Homo sapiens: one gene and its partner. The protein of the gene in region 1 interacts with the protein of each later gene in a pairwise test. Each region holds a gene or a part of one and is shown on either strand. Other genes may lie near its edges.

Region 1 (3,826 bases):
GAATAGCTAGGACTGTAGCCACACAAAACTAGGCCTGGCTAATTTTTTTATTTTTTATAGAGATGAGGTCTCACTATGTTGCCCAGGCTTGTCTCGAACTCCTGGCCTCAAGCAATCCCCCTGCCTTAGTCTCCCAAAGCACTGGAATACAATTGTTACTAGATCTTTCCACTTTGTCATATATATCTGAAAGGAGTGACAAACCTCACCAGATATAGTATTCACAGATAAGAATCATGTTTATGGTTCTCTTATCAAAGGCAATCATTGCTTAATAAAGATTCTATGACTTCATTACCCTTAATTGAGGGTAGGCCTCCAGTGTAAAATAAAATAATAAACATGCTACAAGGTGAACAATCTAAAAAAAGATTCTAAAAATATTTTCACTCACTGGCAAATCATATAGGTTTAAAAATTAAGTGTTTAACTATTATAATCTTCTAGAGCTTAACATGACTTACATTAAAAATCAAGTAAGTTCTTCCTCGACACAATTAATTTTGCATATAGTATGAAGAACATTAGACTTGAAATTAGGAGGCTTGGGTTTTGGCCCCAGTTTTGCCATTAACTCTTTAGGATTAGTGTCATTTCATGTAAAATGAGAGGGTAGAATTTAAAATTTCTAAGTATGAATATGTAAGAACTCAACTCCTGACTTTATTTCCAAGAATTCAATCTCTTTTTTTTGTACACTATAGTATCTTAAGTTTCAAAAGGTAAAATTATGTCGCTTGCTAATAAGTTTCCAATTCCCTTTATATATCTGAAACTAAGAACCTATTTTTATAGAAAACTACCCAATACAACTAACTTTTGTGCTGTGCTTTTCATTTTACAAAATGCTAATAACAATTCTGTATGGGAGGTATTATTATTCCAATTCTACAGAAAACTGAGTTCGAAGAATTGTTAAACATAACCCTTTTTAAAATAATCCACATTTTACTAAATCTATAGTTTAAAAAATGGCTCAGTGAACATTGTTTCTTATAGTTAAATTGATTCTGAAGATGTCTTGGAATTATAATTCAGCTAAACAAAAAGGGAGGGGGGCAGTTTAGTATTGTTCAACCAGAAGCTGCTACTTGTAAGCAACAGAACTAGAATTCATATGATATTTTCTAACTCCAAATACCTCATATAACATATTAAAACACCAAGCCATATTAAATCTTAAAGTCATATTATGACTTTGAACAGTGAAATTTAAAACATATGCAAAGATTTTTAAATAATACATATAGAGGAGAGGTAATAATAAATAAAAATAAGGCCGAGAGTGGTGGCTCATACCTGTAATCCCAGCACTTTGGGAGGCCGAGGCAGACAGATCACCTGAGGTCAGGAGTTTGAGACCATCCTGGCCAACATGGTGAAACCCCGTCTCTACTAAAAATACAAAAATTATCTGGGCATGGTGGCGCACCCCTGTAATCCCAGCTACTGAGGAGGCCAAGGCAGGAGAATTGCTCGAACCCAGGAGGCAGAGGTTGCAGTGAGCCGAGATCATACCACTGCGCTCCAGCCTGGGTGACAGAGTGAGACTTCGTCTCAATAAATAAATAAATAAATAATCAAGTTATACAGTCAAAAAAATATCAAAAGGTCGAACAAACTTACTGGATCCCAAAAGTATGTGGAAAGCTTAAACACTGGCATTTCTTTTCTCTATTAGAATTCTTTAATATTACACTTTAAAAACATGAAAGAGCAATTTTTGCAAATATCTTCATTTAAGCTTATATTTCTAATCAAATTTCTCAAAATGCATATGCCCAATTTATACTATCAGCTGAAGTGCTCTCGATTTTTTAGGAACCAACTCAGCACAGCTAGCACAATTATCAAAATAATCCTTTCTAATTCAAAATTTAACATTTGATTGTTTTATTAACTTAAACGTTTTATCTGCTATGATACTGTAATAGTAAAAGTTTTTCTACAAGTGCCAGAAGAATTTAGAGTAACTAGCAAACTATCAGGGCCAAGTTACAAACAATGGTTAAGGTAAAAACTGAAATACTCACTTTATTATTTTGTGTCACAAGAATACTCCCACCCCCAGGTTTCAAAGGCACCTCTTCCATTGCTCCAAACACATCAGTCTCAACAGAAAAAGTTAGTTCTAGACCCAGATCACTTATATCATTATCTAAAATCCATTGCAAATTTTTCGCATATTCTGGATCAATGGATGCCACATCTTGGTAATTTACAGGAATACCTAAAAAATGCAAACATACAGCAGTTATAGTCTGGTTTTGCCTTCCCTTATCTATTTAATGGTAAAATACTGCCCTCTACAGATATTCTGAAAAACTGCAAAATATAATACAATCCTACACACAGCATATTTTAAATGGATTCCTGAATTTGAAAGTCTGTTAAATTAATTCTGTGTTTCTTTCACATTGTTACAATGTAATCTTTCTTTGAAATAACTATTCAGGAAGTTATTATAAACTTCAAAAATGCCAATTATCTTAAGTATACTCACACTGAAATGTATTCTTAGCATAAAAATACACACACAAAAATTGAAAAAAAAAAAAAAAGGCTAACTTAACTAGAGGTGTTTGGAAAAAAAAAAGGTAGGTCATTTTTTTCTCCTTCAAACCCCGAATGGCTTACATATACAGATGGGCTCCAATCAAAATAAAAATTATCTCATCCAAAATACTACTGCTTATCTAGTTTTCCTCAAACTGAAAAAAAAACAATATAAATAAATGTCTGCAGAAATAATAATAGAGCCATACCAAGAATGTGCTTGTAGAAGGATCGTGTGAAGTAAATATTGACCAGCTGCCTGTGGTTCAACGCTAATCCCAAGATCTGCCCAGCAAACCGAAAATAGTTCAAGTGATCAGGATTTACATAAGAGTTGCTATTAGGCTGAAAAGTTGTTCCTATTGAAATAAATACAAAATAATATATTATTAAGAATCTATATGCAGAAGAAAGATTACTTCGATGCAGATAAACTAATTCACATACAACTTCAGCAAAGCTAAGGTTACATTATGTATAAACTTCCAGAGAAATGTTCTTTGTGGAAAATATAACAAGTGGTAAGTAGAATTGGAAGTATAGATGATAATCATTTATTCATACATATTTGTCACAGTAATCTATGGCAGAGAGAAAATTTTAGAGTACTTTTGACTGAAATTAGTTGGAAGATCATCAGAGACACTCTGGAAATAATACAGCAGAGGATCATATACACATACACATACACACACACACACGCACATATACACAGTTTCCTAGGCAGTATGGCAATAGGCTGTTCGCTAGGACAGACATTATCCCATTCATCTGTATGTGCCAGTGCAGTAAGTATTTGCTAGTTTTTGCTGCTTCAGGAGTAGAACACTATGAGAATAACTAAAAACTGTAAATGTACAACTGCTCTTAAGTGACAGGCCTAGTCAATGAACTTGATGCCTGTTAACAATGATTAGAAAATCACCTCAGTCCACAAGGTAACCAAGTCTTTCTAATGGCAAACAATTAAGTTTAAACAATTACCTCTGAGGTGAAAGTAAAAATGGCAAGGGCAATAAGTTACCAATTACTATGAAAATCCAGTGCAATGGAATATGAATCCACTTTTATAAAATATCTAGAATAGGCAAATTTATAGATAGGTAAAGTAGATTAGTAGTTACCTAAGGCTGAGGAAAGGGGATATGGGAGATATTGCTTAACGGGTACAGAATTTCTGCTTGGGGTGATGAAAAAGCTCTGAAAATAGATAGTGGCCGATGGTTGCACAACACTGTGAATGTACTTAAATGCCACTGAATTGTACACT
Region 2 (3,826 bases), on another chromosome or scaffold:
ACAGGCGTAGCCCAAGTCAGCTTTTGAGAAATGATGACAGAAGCAAAAACCTGGTAATCCTAGATTTTGCTACTGTCTTATTGATTCTAGTATCTCCAGAACTATTAAAAAAAAAAAAGATTTATTCTCAGCCTAAGCCCTTAGGATTGGCTGGAATTTCTTTCCTCCTCAAGTTGTTTTTCAATATATTGTTAGATATTCCCAAACACCTGATGCACCTTTACTTTTGCTCAAATGGTGAGAGCTTGGTGTATGGCTTTCCTTGGAAACAGAAGGGCTCAATAGAGAGAGACTGGACTAAGAAGTAATACAGCCGAACTAAATTCAAATCCCCGCTTTATCACTTATAGCTGTGGAGATCTGAGCAACTTACTTAGTCTTTGTGAGCCTTTGTTTTTTAATCTGTAAAATGGGGAAGATAACTCTTGCTTTATGGGGTCATTGTGAGGAGCAAGTGAGATAACACTTAAATTGCCAAGCTTAGCCTTTAGGACTAGCTGCTATTCAATGAGTGATAGCCCCCTTCTTCCTCTCTTTTCTGGGATCAGAGCTCAAATTTTTGATCTGAGATTTCCATGTTATTCCAGAGTCATGTTAAAATCAAGCTCTGGGACCACAGCTTCTTTCATTTATCCTTATTCCCCTCTAAGGCCACCAAAATATTTCTGGGTCCCTGGGTCTTAGTTCTTTGGAGTATCAGGGTCTTTAAGGGGCCATTCCTCTTGCAGCCCTTGCACCAGAAGGGTGTGGTGCTGAAGGGGTGGAGGCAAGGGGCTCTCCACTCTAAGGTCCTGGCCCCACTCACTGTCACCTCTCTCCCAGTGCCTTTGCTATCCTTTTGTAACTAGCCCAGGCTTGTCCCTCTGCTCTGGAGCAGAGAAGAGTGTCATCTTCCTCTTTCCTCTGGCTCAGAAGCAGGCAGGAATCAGCAGTTTCCTCCTGACAAGGCCCCCTCTGGGTTATGGGAACTAGGCTGGACTCTGCAAGCATTTAACCCTTACGGAGGGTTACATTTCCTCTCCACCTCTCCACATTGGTTACGGCCAGTGGCCATAAAATTTTGGCGTTAAAAAAAAAAAAACCAAAGACTATCTAGTCTAGCTTCCTCATTTTACAACAGTAAGATAACTAAGAAAATAGCTGGCTCTTTACTACTGTGATTAATATTAATAATCATAGCGGCCCATTTATTGAATGCTTATTATGTTCCAGGTATTGTGCTAAGCACTTTACATAAATTTTCCATTTGATCCTCATAATAACCATGAAAAGAAGACAATATTATCTCTATTTTAAAGACGAAAAATTTACAGCTCAGACCAGGTACATAACTTGCCCAAAGTCACACAAGGAGTAAGTGGTAGGACTGATTTTTAATCCCCATCTGGTTTACTTCAAAGCCTTAACCACGACTCTTCTACCACACCAAGCAAATGATGACAGGAATAGAAGCGTAGCCTTGGAATGATGTTTTCTTGCTTCAAGTACTGGTGCTTGGTCCCAACGGCAGGCACCTTCAATTTAGAGTACTCAGAAGGTAGCCGTATGGGCCCCTTGGTCTCATATATTTTTTTCTAGGTTGCAGATCCAGAGCCCTCAGCACTGTGTACAAGAAACCTACTTTTGCACTTCTCACACTCCCTGTTAACTCCCTGTGTAATAATAAACCTAACATTTCCAGGCATGGTGCTAATCTCTCCATGTATTATCTCATCTGATCATCCCATGAGCTAGGCATTATTATTTCCATCTCACAGATAAGAATGTAGAGATGCTAAGGTGCTTCTGAAGAAGGCAGGAAGAAACACAGATGGAATTTGAAGCCTGGCTTTTGTCTCAGAACCTCAAACTCTGAGCCACTACATTATGTTGCCAGCTGTCTCTAGCTCTCTCTCTCTTCCTCTCTCTCTCTCTCTTCCCCCTACTAGATTATAAGATCTGTGAGACTAGTGATCATGTCTTTTTTTTTTCTGAGACAGGGTCTCACTCTGTCACCCAGGCTGGAGTATAGTAGCACAATCTTGGCTCACTGCAACCTCCACCTCCCATGCTCAGGCCTCCAGAGTAGCTGGTACTACAGGTGTGCATCACCACACCCAGCTAATTTTTGGAATTTTTGTAGAGACGGAGTTTTGTCATGTTGCCCAGGCTGGTCTCGAACTCCTGAGCTCAAGCAATCTGCCTACCTTAGCCTGCCAAAGTGCTGGGAGTACAGGTGTGAGCCACCGCACCCAGCCGATCATGTCTTTTTATGTTTGCAACCCCAGTGCCTAGTACAGTGCCAGGCATTCAGAAGATCTTCAATACTACTTGTAAATGAATAGAGGGATGGGTAGATGGATGATGGTGGATGAATAAAGAGAGGGATGAATGGATAGATGGAGGGCTAGGTAGACAAATGGATGATGGATAGATAAAGATATGGAGACATAGATTAAGGGAGAAAAAAGAGGGATGAGTGGATAAAGAGATGGATGAAGGGATGGAGGAAGGGATGGAGGAAAGAATGAAGGGAAGGATCAGGGACAGATGAATGGAGGTTTAGGTAAATAGGTGAATAGATGGATGGATGGATGATGGATGGATGGATGGATGGAGAGATGCATGGAGGGAGAGAGCTAAGGAGGATGGAGGGATAGATGGATAGGAGAATAAAAGGAGGGAAGGAAAGGGGATGGATGAAAGGAGAGATGGGTGGATAAATGAATGGATGATTGGATGGTTGGATGAATGATGGAAGAAGAGTGGATCATGAATACTTTGATGGCAGCACCATGAGCCGCTGACAGGGCAGTGCTTGCCACTGATTTTCTTGTCTCTGCTTTCCTCAGGTCTGGATTCTGAGCTTTTCATCCTCTCCTCTTTTGCCTTTGCCCACACTCCTGATTCTTCTCCAGTTTTCCATCAGTTGGTCAAGCCAGACTCCCTTCCCTCTCCTCTGACTTAGATTTCTGATCTCCACTTGACCCCCTCACTGGGAACCACAGTGGCCTACAGCTCTGTGTGTACATGACCTGGTCCCCATTACTTCTGATGGACCCCATCACCTGCTGCTCTTTCTCTCACATACTCTGATCTGGCTGCAGTTGCCTCCTTACTGTTCCTCAGACACTCCAGGCATGCCCTGAATTCTTTGCACATTCTCCTCACCCTTTCTCTCTCTGGAATGCTTTCTCTGGACACTTGTGTGGCTCCCTTTCTTCCCATCCTCAGTTTTTGCTTAGACACCACTTTCTCAATGAGTCAGTCCTCTCAGCTACTGCCTCTCCCCCTTTCCTGTTTATTTTTCTCTATAGCCATTATCACCATTTGGCAAACTAACATGTATTATGTGTTCATTTGTCTCACCCAACTAGCGTGTAATCTCCATGAGGGCAGTGAGCTTTGTAGGGTTGTATGGTTCACAGCTGAAGCCTGCAGCATTTACAATAGCACCTGATGTGATGTAGGCACTCAATACATATATTTGAAATGACAACAAATCAACACACATATCTCAAGTATCTGGTGTACGTAAGACCCTGCGTTATTGGTTACCACCTGATAACCTGAGTCTGAAAACCTCTTTCATTTCAGGTCCATGGTGGTGTGGGAGCAGATGTGCCCCAGGGCATGGACAGGAAGGTTGGAACCTGTGTCATGGAGCAGGAGCAGAGCGAGGTGTGTGCCTCCTTACCGCCTTGGTGCACTGGACGTCCTTCCCCAGCAGCCAGTTGAGCTCCAGGTTGCCCTCGCCCTGGTAGCAGGACTGCAGGCGCTCCTTGATCTGCAAGTTGATGGCCCGGATAGGGAAGGCACACAGGGCAGAGTCATCGGGCGGGTGGTG

What was found.
Region 2: the proteins of HACE1 (region 1) and PLXNA2 interact in a two-hybrid assay, tested with the Homo sapiens proteins (one large-scale study listed by IntAct).

Annotation. Positions count from the first base shown.
Region 1 is NC_000006.12:104,769,160-104,772,985, forward strand, and holds part of HACE1 (E3 ubiquitin-protein ligase HACE1), read right to left. Parts: intron 2,916-3,826; coding exon 2,766-2,915; intron 2,231-2,765; coding exon 2,034-2,230; intron 1-2,033. UniProt on the Homo sapiens protein: E3 ubiquitin-protein ligase involved in Golgi membrane fusion and regulation of small GTPases. Acts as a regulator of Golgi membrane dynamics during the cell cycle: recruited to Golgi membrane by Rab proteins and regulates postmitotic Golgi membrane fusion.
Region 2 is NC_000001.11:208,213,059-208,216,884, forward strand, and holds part of PLXNA2 (plexin-A2 precursor), read right to left. Parts: coding exon 3,677-3,826; intron 3,661-3,676; exon of another isoform or gene 3,577-3,660; intron 1-3,576. UniProt on the Homo sapiens protein: Coreceptor for SEMA3A and SEMA6A. Necessary for signaling by SEMA6A and class 3 semaphorins and subsequent remodeling of the cytoskeleton. Plays a role in axon guidance, invasive growth and cell migration.